2 separate regions of the Homo sapiens genome follow, and region 2 is linked to region 1. The links come from fine-mapping of genetic effects on gene expression. Tissue or cell type: whole blood. Region 1 holds a variant in brackets; the other region holds the start of a gene. All regions are shown on one strand. Distances are between the middles of the regions.

Region 1 (8,109 bases):
TGTGCTTCATGACCTGACACTGCTGAATGGTGCAATCCTCCCACGAATACCAGGGCTGGCCTATACCTGTGGTTTTGCCCCCAAATGCCAAGGGCAAAGGTTACACTCAGCCAGTCTTAAATGCCTGGCTAAAAAAGGTCTGAAACACAAAAGCAAATATGGGTAGGTTTTCGTTTATTCTTTTTCCAAAATGTCAAAAGCAGATATTTATTTATTTATTTGAGATAGGGTTTACTTTGTCACCCAGGCTGGAGTGCAGTGGGAGGATCATAGCTCACTGCAGCCTTGAACTCTTGGGCTCAAGTGATCCCCCGACCTCTACCTCCCCAGTAGCTAGGACTACAGATGTGCGCCACCACACCCAGTTATGACCAGGCCCATTCCAGAAATTATAAGAACACTCCAAGGTGCTAGAGATGGGGGTCTCACTATGTTGCCTAGATGGTCTCGAGCTCCTGGCCTCAGTGGATCCTCCTAAAGTGCTGGGATTACAGGCATGAGCCACTGTGCTTAGCCTTAATTTTTTTTTTTTTTTTTTGAGACAGAGTCTTGCTCTGTCACCCAGGCTGCAGTGCAGTGGCATAATCTCGGCTCACTGCAACCTCCACCTTCCAGGTTCAAGTGATTCTCCTGCCTCAGCCTACAGAGTAGCTGAGATTACAGGTGCACACTACTATGCCCGGCTAATTTTTGTATTTTAATAGAGACGGGTTTTCTCTGTTTTGGCCAGGGTGGTCACGAACTCCTGGCCTCAAGAAATCTACTTGCCTCGGCCTCCCAAAGTGCTGTGATTATAAGCATGAGCACCATGCCCAGGCTGGCCTTAATTTTTTAAATAAGAGGTTGTATACATATTTTACCTACTAGATTTAAATAGAAATTTTCTGTATATGATTAAGACTAGTTATATATTAAGATAGAATTAACCATGTAAGCCTTCTGATATTGTAGCAACAAACACAGATGAAATGAAAGGACGCAATGTATACATTCTCATGAAATGGTCACTTGAGTTCCATTGAAATCTGTGTTCATAGCCTAAATGTAGTAAATTGAGATAATATGGATAATCTCAGTCAAAACTCATTTATCTCATCATTATTTAACTATATCAGGTCCAAGTTATGCCATGTGACTCAGCTCTTCATTTTCTAAAACTTTAAAGTTTTAAATCCGTAGGAAGTTTCATCCATTTTTAAAATATGCTGTAAGAAGATGCTGGATTCAGACAGACCTGGGCTTGGTACTCAGTTCATCTTAAACAAGTTACTCAGCCTCTTTAAGCCTCTCTTTTCTAAAATGAGGACAGTGACACAGTGCTCATCTCATGGAGTTATTGTGAGGCTTAAAATAGGTCATATGTAAGGACTTAGAGCAATGCCTAAACATAATATGCATGCTCCAATATTGTCATTATCACTATGATTAATGGCACATGGTACCTAGTACACAGCACTCAATAAGTGTTAGTTCCTTTTCTCTCTAACAGAAGCTCTTGTTGCCATGGTTCTGCATTTCAAATCATTTGCCATATACATGTCTTACCACTAATTTATATTCTAAAGCCAAATCAGTTCAGGGTAAAGGAGTTACACTGAGACAGGAGTTTCAGGGACAATGCTAAAAACATCAACTTTGTTCTAAAAAATAGTTTTGATCATATTCTGTGAACAGACGAGAATTGTATGACTTAGCGGTGTCAGCTTTCTAGCATTATCTTCAAAACACAATTTTCCGTTTCACAGTGGATGCTTTCATAGTGATCCATAGGCCTGTATCCTCTGATGAGCCTAGAAAGCATCAGAATAATCCTCTTCAAGTCTCAAACACTGAAAGAAAAAGGGAGGGGACCAGCAGGTTCCCTGAGGATTATCTCTTTGGGGTAGAAAATCCTCTGAGCTTTTTGGAAGATGTGGAAGACGTATCTGATCCATGAGCTGGTTCAAGTGGTCCTATGGGGTAGGAAAGGGAACAGGGAACTAGGAAGACTGGTTAAATGAGGGCCTGGACATTCCCATGAATGAAGTGGCAGTGCTGGGTCATAGGTGATCAGGAAAGACAGAGTGCTATGGAAAATGTTGAGATACACAGATGTGCTGGGAAAGCATTCCAGGATGTTGAAACCCCGAGTGAGCCAAGGAAAAGCTAAATCCTAATCAAAGAGAAGTCCAAAAGAAAGCCCTGTCAATCTTGTGGAAAGAGATCAGAAATAGAAGTGAACTGAGGTGAAAAGTAAATAGAAGAGAGCATGGGGCATAGCCACAGAGCCTGGAGCATTGCATTGCATCTTCCCGGTTTCTCAATAGTGTGGGTCCTGCCTACTTGGCAGCCCTGTTGTAAACCATTGACTGATAATCGCCTCCAAATTTGCCTGTCTTAAGCTTCATTTCTCCTTCTATAAATTACTTGAGAAGTCCCCTGGGAACAGAATCAACAGCCATTTTGGTGGTGATGTTGGGACAGGGTTTCAGTCCCACGGGCCATACCCCAGGCTGCATAACTCCAGGGGATAGGGCCAGAAATTTTCTATAGACCTCTCTCTTAATTTTAATTTTGGAAACCCTGAAGCTGAGTTTACCTCAAACCCATCACAAGGGTAATTATCTCAAAGTACAGAAAAAATTAAAATGTTCATGTTGTTTCTTATTCCACTGTCATGTATATGAGACCATCAGTTTAGACTATACTATTGAGCTTTAGAAACATTATACCAGGTCTTGCAAAATGAGACGATATATTGGTTTCCAAGGTTTCTCTAGCGACTTGTGTCTCAGGCCCCAGACTCTAGCTAGGAACTAGCACACCAGATAGGAATCTCAGGAGAGAGGATTAAACGGACACTGGTTCTAAATAATACAGACTCAATACCGTTTCTTCTAGGTGAGGCTCTTAAACTTTCTCACTGACCCATGCATTGTGATTTCACAGCTGGGATGGCATTCTTGAGCCGAAGCTGATGTGAGATTCCGGATTTTGAACATCTTGGTGGGGAGACAGCCCCATCCTTCCTTCCAGGTTGCAGATTTGCTACAGTATCTCCAGACCCAAGTTGGCTCAGACTGGAATGGCAGGATCAGGTTTGAGTTCCTGCTGTTCCAGAGAAAACTTAGGAAGGCCTCATCTGACCTCTAACTAGATTTCAGAGCAGTCTGTTCCCTAAAGTGAAATTTGAGTGAAGAGCCAGTTTTGTAGGAAGGCTGCAAATGATCAGGCCCATTCCAGAAGTTATAAGAACACTCCAAGCTGAGGGTGTGAGGAACACCACCCCACTGAATACCCTAAAAGGAGAACAGAGATTGGATATCAAGGCTCCAATATGGCCCTGGGATTGATGGCCTACTGTTTTTGAACTGGGGTCAGGATCACATCTTTATCTGTATGTATGGGGAGGTGATTCCTACTGTCAGTCATCAAGTGAAGATGTGGATTTGTCCAACCAAAACACAAATCTGCAGATGTCTTGGCTTAGTTTTACGAGTTCCATGCTGGCTTCCAGGAGCCAACTGTTCCTCCTTTAGAGCTCTGACCCAAGGATGGACAGAAAAATCTTGTTTTCAGTTTAACCCTTCTGAAGACTCCAATGATGCTAAGAGAAAACAAGCGAGAAATGACCAAAGAGACTATA[C/T]AATGTAAGTATTTGCCTAATTCTTGCTTTCTCTTCTCCTCTCCATCTCAAAACCACTGCTCAAATTCCTCTGGATTCCTTCAACCACGTCTATTTGTTTCCCTACATCCAACCTGTCCCCCTCATGTCATCCTCCAGACCATATCTGCTCTTTGTTTAATATTTATCAATGCCCTTGAGGAACTGCCTTTCTAGATTCATCTTCAGCGTCGGCTCCACACGTTTCTTTCTGGCATTTCTGACTTTACTTTATGAGATCCAGAGAGTAAGCTTATAGCTTACGTTGAATTTGTCACAACTTTCATAATGTGGAGCATGCAGCACTGAGCCTATTTCCTTTGTCTACTGTGATAGCCTGGCCTTAACTCCCTGTGCAGGACCAGCCATTTAAAAGGTCATTAACAAAAGAAAGAAGACCCTTTTTCAATTTTTCTCCGGAAGCCTAGAAATTTTTTAAAAATATCCTTTCTGTTTTAAGAATATGCAGTGTCTTAGGAGAATTAAATGGACCCAAGAAATTGAAATTTCTTAAAGGTAGGCTAAAGGGAGACTGCTTATCATTTTTACCACTAAGTGAAAAATGTACTAATTTCATTTTTCTAGTGAGTAGAAAATGTCTATAAAACTCATGTTTTTCTGAAAGTGTTTTTTCTCTGACAAGATGACTGTGCTCCACTGGGCTGGAAAGCATTATTAAGTATAACAATAAACTATACAAAGAAAAAAATCACAAAAATTTTCAGATCAGGAAATGCTTAAATATTTCCAAAAATGTTTATCAGTAAATGTTATTCTAGAATTAAAACATTTCCTGTTGATGATCATGCCATGGAGAAAATCATGTAATGCCAGTTATGAGATCTTATATATTTAGAAAAAAAACCCCATTATAAGTAACATGAGATAAATAGGAATCATACTTTTAAAAAAGATTATTATTCACATAAAAATTTAAACCTTAAGCAATATAAAAATACAAGAGAGAAATAAATTAGTCAATATGTCAACTCTCAGAAATGACCACTCAATATTTAAGTATTTCCAAGCAGGTCTCAGTGTAAATAGACACACTTGTGTTCAATTTTACATATATAGTTTTTATGACTTGTATTTATATCAGCAACACATCCTGGACAGCTTTCCCTGTCAAAAAGTCTGGATCTGCAGTATTAGTGTTCACAATTGTGCATTTGTGTCACATGTATCCATTGAGATGTTCCAAGCTTCAGCAGCACCTCTCCAAACAAGTCCTCATGTGACAACCTAAAAAAAGCAGGAAGGGAAGGAGGGGGCAGCCGAGTGGGTGGGTGGGCGTGTTTTTTCAGAAGCCTCCTAGTGGACTTCCTTGTATGAAATTGAAGCACGATATTTCCCTGACCCCTTCGTGGGACTCACAAAGGAGCTGTCTTGTTTACTGAGCCCGCAGCTCTCAATTCCTTGAGGGAGGGAGCCCGTGAGCAAATGAGGCAGGAACTGGAGTGCACGGGTGCTGGAACTAGCCAGCTGCTTCAGTGCCAGCAGGAGTGAACTCCACTCACTTGGATCTGCTGTGCTCCACTCCTCACGGGAGGGAGCACATAGGTGAGCAGGTGCAGGAGCCAGGGCGAGTGCTTTTGGGTACTGGCAGGAGTGAACTCTGTGCAGGCCCTGCGGCAGCATTTGCAGGGGGGTGTGCCTGCAACCCCTGAAACCCCAGAGGGAGTGCTACAGTGCCCTTTTAGCTTTGCCTGCTGTACACAGACAACTTGAGTGCTAACAGCTCAGCAGGCCCTCTGCCTTTTCATATGAGGCGGCTGCCTTCTGCCAGAGAGGGCAAAGGGCAAGTGTGACAGCTTTTTTGTATCCTCACTCATGGCTCCCGAGCTCTTGCCCAGCATCCAGGAGAAATGAGGTCTCATGAATGAATTGAAGGATGGTAAATGCATGGATTTTATTGCCAATGAAAGTGATAATCACCAAGAGAGGCAGCTGAAAAGGGGACAAGATGGGAAGGTAATCTTCCCCTGAAGTCTGGCAGTCTCCAGCCAGATTCTTCTCCAAAGTTACGCCACCAAGCTGTCCTTCTGAAGTCAGGCTGCTTCTCTCTGATGTCCAGCTATAGTCCCTGACATTCAGCTGCTTCTCCTCTCTCTGCCAGCTGAGGCTGATGTTTTTATAGGCACAGGATGGGGGGCAGGGTGGGGCCATGGGTGCTTTGGAAAAGGCAAGATTCGAGCAGGGAAACAGCGGTGTAAGTTCTAACTTTGGGCCGCAGTCTCAGGCTTTTCAGCTTGAGATGGGGCTTCACCAGGGACCTGCCCTTCTTCGCCTAGAATTTCTCTGTTCCCATCCCCATCAAAATGTCTATGGCTAGGACCAGTCACATGGCCACCCCAGACACTATCAAGTGAGAATGAATTGATATGACTGTCTCGGACAAGCCAGGCTTGCTCCTCTGTGATCATCACAAAAACCAGAGTCCTGTGGGCAATAAAATAAGCTTAAATTCATGAATTCACGACAATACCAACAAAGAAACTCAATTAGTGGCCATTGCAGACTGCTAATGACCAACCCATTATTATAAAATTATTATAAAAACTGGCAAATTAAGAGACAGAATCAAATGCTTATCATGCTTTTCCTATGTCATTGGGAAATCAAATCATTGAGGAAGAAAGTTTCCCTTTATAAAAGCATGTCAGCTAATAAATGAAGATGAAATGATAGGGTTAGGATATCACCATTTCCAGTATCTGTTGAGTTAATGGATCTAGGTATTGAGCACTAACAACTACCAATATCACAGAAAGAAACAACCCAACATTAAATGCCTCCTGGTGGAAGGACACAATACCATCTAGGAAGTCATCTTGCCAAAAATATAGAACCTCAATCTAACCGAGACTCTAGATCCAATCACACCAATTTGAGGGAAATATGAAGGGTACATTCAAGGAAATCAGATTTTGGAAAACTCAGTGATTGGCACAATTGTAGGCTACAGTTTGTTTACACCTCTACTTGTTTTTTTTTCTTTTTTTAATTTATTTTTTATTATTATACTTTAAGTTTTGGGGTACATGTGCACAACATGCAGGTTTGTTACATAGGTATACATGTGCCACATTGGTTTTCTGCACCCATAAACTCGTCATTTACATTAGGTAGTTCTCCTAATGCTATCCCTCTCCCAGACCCCCACCCCCAAACAGGCCCCAGTGTGTGATGTTCCCCTCCCTGTGTCCATGTGTTCTCGTTGTTCAGCTTCCACTTATGAGTGAGAACATGAGGTGTTTGGTTTTCTTTTCTTGTGTTACTTTGCTGAGAATGATGGTTTCCAGTTTCATCCATGTCCCTGTAAAGGACATGAACTCATCCTTTTTTATGGCTGCATAGTGTTCCATGTACACCTCTACTTGTTATAATTTATGATGTACAGAAAAACCTTTAGGCCAAACTTAAAATATGTAAGGAGGCAGCTTTAAGCTAAACTTGATTTAACAATTATAAATGTTTCTTATCAGATTGAAGGTCTGAGTTAATGTTAATGCTGGCTGGCTTTTCCTGAATTCCAAAAGGGAGGAGGGTATAATGAGGCACGTCTGACCCCTCCTTCCCATCATGGCCTGAACTAGGTTTTCAGGTTAACTTGGAGTGCACGTGGCCAAGAGGAGGGGTCCGTTCAGATGGTTGAGGGGCTTAGAATTTTATTTTTGATTTACAACTATTAAGCATGAACCTAGCTTTCATCGTATGTAGCCACTTACTAAAGATTTCTTTGATCAAAAATGATTACAGACTATTAAATTTTATCAAACATTTTTCTCATCATGAATTAAAACATTTCTATTCCTTTGACCTATTATTATGGAAGAATATATTAATCAATTTCTTAACACTGAATCATATTTACATCACTGAAAGGAACCCAATCTTGGTAATTGTACAATATATTTTTAAAAGTATTGCTAGTTTCTATTTGTTACATTTTATTTAGTATATTTTTCCTACTTAATATGCAAACAACGTGCCATCTTTATCACATTTTGTTATCGGTTGGCTTTGCAAAAATCTTAAAATATTAAGGAAACACTAAGTCTAATCCTCCATTTTTAAAGGTAAAGATTTTTGAGGCCCCTAGAATATTAAGTGACTTACTAAGTTCACATTATTTTATTTTTTTTTATTCCCTGCAAGTGTTGCACATCTACTCTTTTTTTTTTTTTTTTTTTTTGAGTTGTGGGGTCTGGAAAACTCTATCACCCTGGCTGGAATACAGTGGCACAATTAAGGCTTTGTGGCCTTGAACTCCTGGGGCTCAAGTGATCCTCCCACCTCAGCCTCTCTAGTAGCTGAGACTGCAGAAATGAGCCACCACATCCCACTAAGTTCTTGTGTGTGTGTGTGTGTGTGTGTGTGTGTGTGTGTGTGTGTGTGTGTGTGTGTAGAGACAGGATCTCACTGTGTTGCCCAGCCTGGTCTTGAAATCCTGGCCTCAAGCC
Region 2 (8,109 bases), 240 kb after region 1:
ATCTATACTTACGCAAAGAAAAAATGAAAGGAATATATCAATATATTTTCAAGATCCTGAATTCTAACAAAACTAATTCTGAGTCAGTCAGGAAATCTGAACACTGATTGCATATTAGAAGGTATAAAAATTATTTTATAAGGTATGGCGGTGTTTTTTTAAAAGTCCTTGTATCATAGTGAATAAAATATAACTAAGACCTGCTTTAAAATAGTTTGGTGGGAGGCATTTATGGAGGAATTTTTTTCAAACTTTTTTTTTTTTTGAGACAGACTCTCGCTCTGTTGCCAGGCTGGAGTGCAGTGGCACGATCTCGGCTCACTGTAACCTCCACCTCCTGGGTTCAAGCAATTCTCCTGCCTCAGCTTCCCAAATAGCTGGGACTACAGGCGCACGCCACACCCTGCTAATTTTTTTTTTTTTTTTTGTATTTTAGTAGAGACAGGGTTTCACCATGTTGCCCAGGCTGGTCTCGAACTCCTGAGCTCAGGCAATCCACCTGCCTCAGCCTCCCAAAGTGGTAGGATTACAGGCATGAACCACCGTGCCCGGCCTCAAACATTTTTAATGTTAGCAGAGGTAAATTTCCTCTGGGTAATGGAATTATTATTAGCTTTTATTGTCTTTATATTTTTCTATCTTTCAATTTTTGTATAGTGATTTGAAGTTGTTTTTAAAATGAGAAAAAAAAATTTCAAAACGTTTTAAGAAAATCCTTACCAATACTCCATCCACAGATGAAACTTTCTCCCAAGTTAACCAAGCTCTCTCTCTGACATGATCTGGTATCTTTAATTTCTGACATAATGCAGTAAAATCAGGTTCTTCTGTTTCTTCAAACTCAAGCCTACCAAATGAAAATAATCATATAATTGGCATATACTTATAAATCAAATTGATTCAGTACATACTTGTTTCAATAGTTTGCACATAACACTACTGTGAAAAAGAACATTATTAAATACTTTAAGATCTTATTTTATCTTAGAAAAACATTACACTTCAAATTTAAACATATGATTATCTTTTTCATGGTCATTCCAAAATAAGGATACCACACAGTGAAAAATATTTGCTTGCATGGTAAGTCAAATATACTTCAAAGCAGCAAAACACTTCTGTGAAGGAAAGTAAATGTAATAGCTAAAGCTGTTTGGGAAAATAGGATAAAGATAACAACAAAAAGATAAAAACCCATAGATAATATTATACAATTCAACGCCAGTGACTTTGTTAAACTGTAGTCTTCTCTTATCAATGTTTCATATATCTCTCTACCTACTAGCACATCTTACATGATGCGACTGCTTATTTTTGTCCTTTCCCCTTAACAAAGACAAGCATTTAATAAATTCTTGTTGGCTAATTCATTTTCATTCATCTAATTTCTATGTGTTATCTACTAATAAGAATAGTATGAAGAATAATTAATAATTTTTGAGTATTTACTATGATCCTGTAGAAAGTACCTTAAACATATGGTTTCACTGAATCCCGACATCAGCCCTTTTAGATAAGTATTCTCATCTGTAAAAGTAGACATTTACAGATGTCTGTCAAATTGGAGAAGTTAAAGAACTTACCTGAGGTCTCAGCCGGTAAGAGGTAAACCACTATGTGAGCCCAACAGTCTAACTCTATAATCCATGCCCTTGACCACTATTCTAGACTGCCAATTCCTCCTTCAAAACATAATTAGTTTTTGTTTTTTTTTCTTGTTTTGAAATAGGGTTTCACTCTGTCATCCAGGCTGGGGTGCAGTGGTGAAATCATGGCTCACTGCAGTCTCAAACTCCTGGGCTCAAGGGATCCTCCCACCTCAGCCTCCTGAGTAGATGAGCCTACAGGTGTGCCACAGCCACTGGCTAATTTTTTAAAATTTGTTTTAGAGACAGGGTCTTGTTTTGTTGCCCAGGCTCCTCTCAAACTCCTGGCCTCAAGCAATCTTCCCATCTTGGCCTCCCAAAGTGCTGGCATTACAGGCGTGAGCCAACATGCCTGGTCAGCTTTTTTGTTTTTTTAAAGACTGGGGTCTTGCTTTGTTGCCCAGGCTGGCCTCCAACTCCCAAGCTCATGTGATCCTCCTGCCTCAGCCTCCTGAGTAGCATGGACTACAGGTACGCGCCATCACACCCAGCTCGAAACATGATTAACCTTTGATTATTTCAACAATGAATGTGGTATGCTGTTCCTAGTGACAGTTTCCCTTCCAGCTACATTACTTAGGCCAGAGATAAGGCAACAGAAATAAGATCTAAACTCTCAAATCAGGAATGGAATCTGTCACTGGAGGTGCAGTTGGACTGAGCCTTGATTCCATCTCCAGGCAAGATGCTCAGTATCAGACTGCACGGCAGCGGTTCTACCCTTGCTGGTTAATTTATAGAGTTCAACTGTCTATGTTAATGAAACCCTTTGTGGGTATGGATAATCAAGAACAGACTGTATCTTGTATGGTTTTGACTTATAAGAGAATTTTTTATAGTTCCATTACTTAAAATATATAAAATGAGTTAAAAAATGAAAGAAACAGTCCTCTTTTTTCCAAGCAGTGGCCACAACGTCAATATTCCTGGTTACCCTACATTAGAGTATGCTTCCAAAGCTGTGTGCATAACATGGAATTCTTTAGAGTAGCCATTACTGCATTTTCCCAAGGGAAATTTGCAAGAATTGGATACATCAGAATTTAATCAGAAACTAAAGCCATGTCTTTTCCCAGAACATGCCCCAGACGTGGTTTTTAATTTTTTGTTGTTGTTATTTTGGTTTTTTAACGAATATGGTTTTTAACTGACCTATAAGACAGTCCATTTAAATATATAAATTTTTAATAGCCTTCCAGGGGCCATTTCCTAAATCCCACTTCAATCTTTTCTGCCGTGAATTGTTAGTGTATACCGAGTGGAAAGAAATGGGTGAGGGTGAAAGGATTTGGTGATAGACAAGAATGGGAGAGAAAATAGTGAAAAACAGAAACAAGTCCCATTCCCTCTGCAATGAACTTGTCTCAAAGTAGAACCAGTGCTGACAATAATGACAATTACACTCTTTCAATCATAGCTATTTAACCATAAAGTAGAAAAATCAAGAAAAGTAAGATGTTGTAATACAATAAATACTTCCCTTCAAGATCTAGTGCATTCGTATGGACTTGCTTAAATTTAGATTCCACTTAATAAGGGAAAACGAAAATTTCCATTTGCGCACAGAACCACTAATTTTGTGCCAAAAACAAAGGCAAAAAGAGGGGACACCAAGATCCTTGCTGGTTCAAAGTCAAAAGGCAAAATGGAAGAAATAATGAGACAAGCCGAAGCCGACTAACACGCAAGAAGAGTTCATCAAACAGGAAAAAAAAAAGTTTAGAAACTTTCAAGCACTTCTGGTAAATGTCTCATGAAAGTTTTGCCCATGTTTCAGTTCCTCTAAAGAGTTACGCTCCATCAATCACTACAGATGGCTTTGAGTCCCCAAGGCCTCGATGCATTATTGTTCTAAGGAAACGCCGCAAAGCTCCTGAGCCGAGTATCCTGTGGGCAATGGACACTCAGGACCCTGCGCTTCTTGTCCAAGGCTTTCTGGTCGGCCTCTCCCACAAATGGACTTCAGATGCAGTGCACGCCCGGAAGAAAATACTTCCCAACTGTTGCATCGCGTGAACCAAAACAGAAAGTCAGACGACCACCGGAGTACTCCAATTCTCCGGTGAAAAACTCTCCCACAGACACCATTTTTGTATTTTTATTTTTCATTTTTTGCGTCTGATGGACGCTCGCAACGACCCTCTGCCTCCGAGCCTCACAAGAGGGAACTGCACCTGTCACTTCGCTCAGGACCCTAGCCCCACCCGCCCGACACCTGTCAAGTTGAAGCCGAGACCCCTCGCCCAAGAACCCAGAATCCTGTCACCATTCTGCAGACGCTCCGCCGTGGCGGGGGGCAGGGAGGGCGCCTCCTCCCGCCGGGACCCGGCCCCTGGCGAGGACGGATCCCCGCCGAGCCGCCTTGGCGCCCGCCCTACGCACACCCGGGGCGCCCTTCCCGCGTGAGGCGACGGCGGCTCTGCTCGCTCACCTGACGAGAGGCAGGTCCTCCGGGCCGCTGTCCTGCTCTGGGTCCTCCTCAGGAGGGGGCGGCGGCGGCGGTGCCGGGGGTTCCGCGGCGGCAGCGGCGGCGGTGGCGGCCGTTTTTCGGGGGGTTTTGGGCGGCATGACGCCTTTCCGCGGCGGGAGCCAGCGAGCTGTGGAGGAGCGCCGGGGAGGACGACGCGCGCGCACGTCGGGGCACGCCCCGTCCTCTCCCGACTCCCGTTACAAAAATAATTTCAACGTCCCCTGAGAAAAACCGGACGCGCCCTCCCCCGCCCGGCAACTGAGCGCCGCGTCCAACCGCGGGAAAACGTCACTTCCGCCCGCGGCGTCACGTCCGCGAGGCTCCCGGGCCCGCCGGCGTCTGTGGGGAACTGGGGCGCTGGTCGGTGCGCGGGCTGGGACGCTAAGTCATGAGGAATTAAACTGGGAAACCTGGCGTGGGTCCAGGCGCCTTCCAGGAGGCATCCGGCGCGGCCCGGACGTGCTTCTACCCAGAACCACCCCCTCCAGGCCGGGGTGCACTTAACGGGGCTATACAAAGAGTCTGGTGGGTGACTGTGGGCCTCATCCCTATCCCGGGGTCTGATAGGGAAGACTCTCGGGCCCCGCAGGGAATATCTGGCTAGTGCACCCTCGGCGGGAGCGCCACTCTCCCTCCTTGGGCGGCGCCCCCCACCTCTCATCCCGCCCAATCCGTTTTGCAAAGTCGGCCAAAACAAAAACAAACTTGGAGCGCTGATAGGTGCGGAACTTTACCAGTCACTTAGAAGATAGAAAATGTTAGACACTTGCTGGCCTTTTGGGATCACTGGTTAGGGAAAGGAAGGGAGGGAGCTGTGGGGAATGAACGGATAGTAGTGTAATAAAGGATTGTAGTGGTGTAAGAACGGGAAGCACCGTGGAAACGTCTGAGGAAGATTTTCAGGGGAGCAGTAGCTGCTGAATAGAAGTCTGTCAGGCAGGCCTGACATTTACTATGTACCAGGAACTGTGCTGGCCACCTTACATAATTGTCTTATTTAATCCCCAGAAACAGCCTTTTTTTTCTTTTTCTTTCTTTCTTTTCTTTTTTTTTTTTTTTTTTTACTTTAAGTTCCGGGATACAAGTGCAGAACGTGTAGGTTTGTTACATAGGCATACGTATGCCATGGAGGTTTGCTGCACCTATCAACCCGTCATCTAGGTTTTAAGCCTTGCATGCATTAGCTAAGAAACAACGCTTTCCAATGGGTAGTATTAGCTAGTCTACGTTGCAGATGAGGAAACAGGCTCAGAGGAGTTAATTTGTCCAATACCAGGGCCGATGGGTAGCAGAGAATTTGAACTCAATTCTATTTGATTCCACTTGTCCATTATATTATGTTTGATGAAGAAAACAGTGACAGAGAAGGAGCATGTGCAAAGGCACAAAGACATCAGAAAAGAGCTTGCTGGGACTACCACCATCAAACATTGGCTTAAAGCTGTTATCACTTCTGTGTCTCGGTATTTGTACCAATAGATTATCTAGTTTGAATACATTTTTTTTTCTCTTTGGCAGACACTGTTATTGCCCATCTGAACTCGTCAACTGAGAAGGAAAGAGATGGTTTATGCTGTGAATAAAATACAGTTGTGCTGTGATGTAAATCCCCTCATCCTGGAGCAGCTGAGCAAGGTCTAAGGCAGGAAGAACCTTCAAGCAGGTCATGGCTGTAAGCCTCCTGAGTTTATCCCAGCAAGTTGTATAAGGGATTATCTTTTTATCTGCATATTATGACATATGTGAGGATGTGTAAAGGTTTGGCAAGCACTGGCCTACTCAACAGCCAGTCCTACCTAACTTCAGAAATCTTTCTTGTGGGCAAATGTCAGGAGATAGGGCCCAGGCCCAGGTCCAGCTACAAAGAATGAATACAATTAAAGTGCTACTTCCATTCACCTCACCCCAGATTAGTTTAGGCAAGAGCTCAGGATGCAGTTTTGACATTTGAAAGATAAGGAGTAGTCTGCTGGGAGCCTGATAAATTGAAACAGGGATGGCACAGTTCTAAATATTATTAAATAATAGTAATAATATTAAGTATTACTGAGGATGTGACACTTCTGATTGCTGCAGCCATTGTAACGTGAGGCAAGCCAACCTACAGAGAAGGTAGAAATGCTGATATTGGTGCAGGAGGAATTTCAAAAGAATCTGGATCCTCAGTGTTATAAATGAGCCTCTGATTTGGCCAGCCCTGGAGCTGACCTAAGCTGAGCTGAGGTTTTCACTTGTTTGCAACAGAAAGCATCATGACTGATAATGTTTCTCCTGTGCTTATCTTCAGGATAGAGACCAAATCTTGGGTATCATCATTGCCTTAGTACCTAGCACAGTGTTACACACACAGTAAATGCTTGCTTACTAAAAGTAGGGATGGCAGGAAAGTGAAGGAAAGTTCTAGGAACTGAAGTAAACTCTCTTCATACGTAGATATCACTTGCTTTATTTAAAACCAGTTTATCAACATCTAGATTACATTTATGTAATCTAGATTTATTTATTACCATATTACAATTATGATAAAGAGATTTCTCAATTTACAAAAGAATATATGTCTTGACCATGGATTAATTTAACTATGTTCACTAGTATGTAAAATATATTTTCCTGCAGCCATAAAAAGGAATGAGATCATGTCCTTTGCAGGAACATGGATGGAGCCAGAAGCCTTTATCCTCAGCAAACTAACGCAGGAACAGAAAACCAAACACTGCATGTTCTCACTTATAAGTGGGAGCTAAACAATGAGAACACATGGACATGAAGAGGGGAACAACACACACTGGGGGATTACTTGAGGGTGTAGGGTGAGAGGACAGAAGATCAAAAAACTACCTATCAGGTACTACACTTGTTACCTGGGTGGTGAAAAAATCTGTACACACCAAACCCCAGAGACACACAGTTTACCTATATAACAAACTTGCACATGTATCCCTAAACCTAAAATAATAGTTTGAAAAAAGTGTGGTGTATATATCATAATATATACACATAAATAGATACACACACACACACACACACACACACACACACACACATACACACATACATACCATAAAATAGACCCAGGAAGGGGAACAACACACACTGGGGCCTGTAGCGGGGAAGGGTGGGGAGAGGGAGAGCATCAGGAGAGCTAATGGATGCTGGGCTTAATACCATGGTGATGGGTTGATCTGTGCAGCACACCACCATAGCACACATTTACCTGTGTAACAAACCTGCACATCCTACACATATACCTGGGAGCTTAAAAGTTGAAGGAAAAAATAATAAAATATATTTTCATCCACACAACTCAGAAGCAATTGAGTTCACCATCAAAATCTTTAGTTTTCTGTTGCATTACCAAAGAAGTATTAGAATTTCGGCAGAGTCTAGACCAGGTACGGTGGCTCACGCCTGTAATCCCAGCAGTTTGGGAGGCCAAGGCGGGTGGATCACCTGAGGTCAGGAGTTTGAGACCAGGCTGGCAAACATGGTGAAACCACATCTCTACCAAAAATACGAAATTAGCTGAGTGTGGTGGCAGGTGCCTGTAATCCCAGCTACTCTGGAGGCTGAGGCAGGAGAATCACTTGAACCCAGGAGGCAGAGGTTGCAGTGAGCTGAGATCATGCCACTGCACTCCAGCCTAGGCGACAAGAGCAAGACCCCATCTCAAAAAATATATATATATATATATATATATATATATATATATATTTCAGCAGAGTCTTAAAAAAATTCCCCCTGAACTTCTTGAAATTCATGGATCTCTTCCAACCTGCTTGGTAATTTTAAGAAGATTGCTGTAAGACTCCTACAAAAAATATATGTATTTCTTAGATTTTCTATCTAGAGAGGGAACTCTCTTCAGTTTGAGACTCCTTCAGTGATATTAAAATTTGGGGAAGGGTCTAAAAAGTCTTCATCGTTCTAAAAAGCCTTCCTTCAAAGTTTTTATACCCCCAAGCTACCACACTATTTCCATTTCTTAACCATCTA

The links. PIP is the estimated chance that this variant, and not a neighbour inherited with it, causes the effect.
Region 2: RB1-DT starts here. The variant in region 1 is fine-mapped to the expression of RB1-DT in whole blood (TOPMed, PIP above 0.99).

The regions. Positions count from the first base shown.
Region 1 is chr13:48,539,950-48,548,058 of GRCh38, reverse strand. The region is part of intron 1 of LOC124903174 (a long non-coding RNA gene); the gene reads right to left. Among named protein-coding and RNA genes, the nearest start is that of RCBTB2, 11 kb to the right of the region's middle. The variant C/T (reference allele first, on the strand shown) is at 3,626.
Region 2 is chr13:48,300,018-48,308,126 of GRCh38, reverse strand. RB1-DT (RB1 divergent transcript) reads left to right here and starts at 4,425. Exons shown (of 3, transcript NR_046414.2): 1 at 4,425-4,836; 2 at 5,635-5,788. RB1 (RB transcriptional corepressor 1) reads right to left here and starts at 4,376. Exons shown (of 27, transcript NM_000321.3): 1 at 4,078-4,376; 2 at 721-847. The coding sequence starts at 4,214. RefSeq lists enhancers at 3,365-3,434, 3,675-3,724, 3,799-4,522, 4,523-5,248 and a silencer at 3,935-4,224.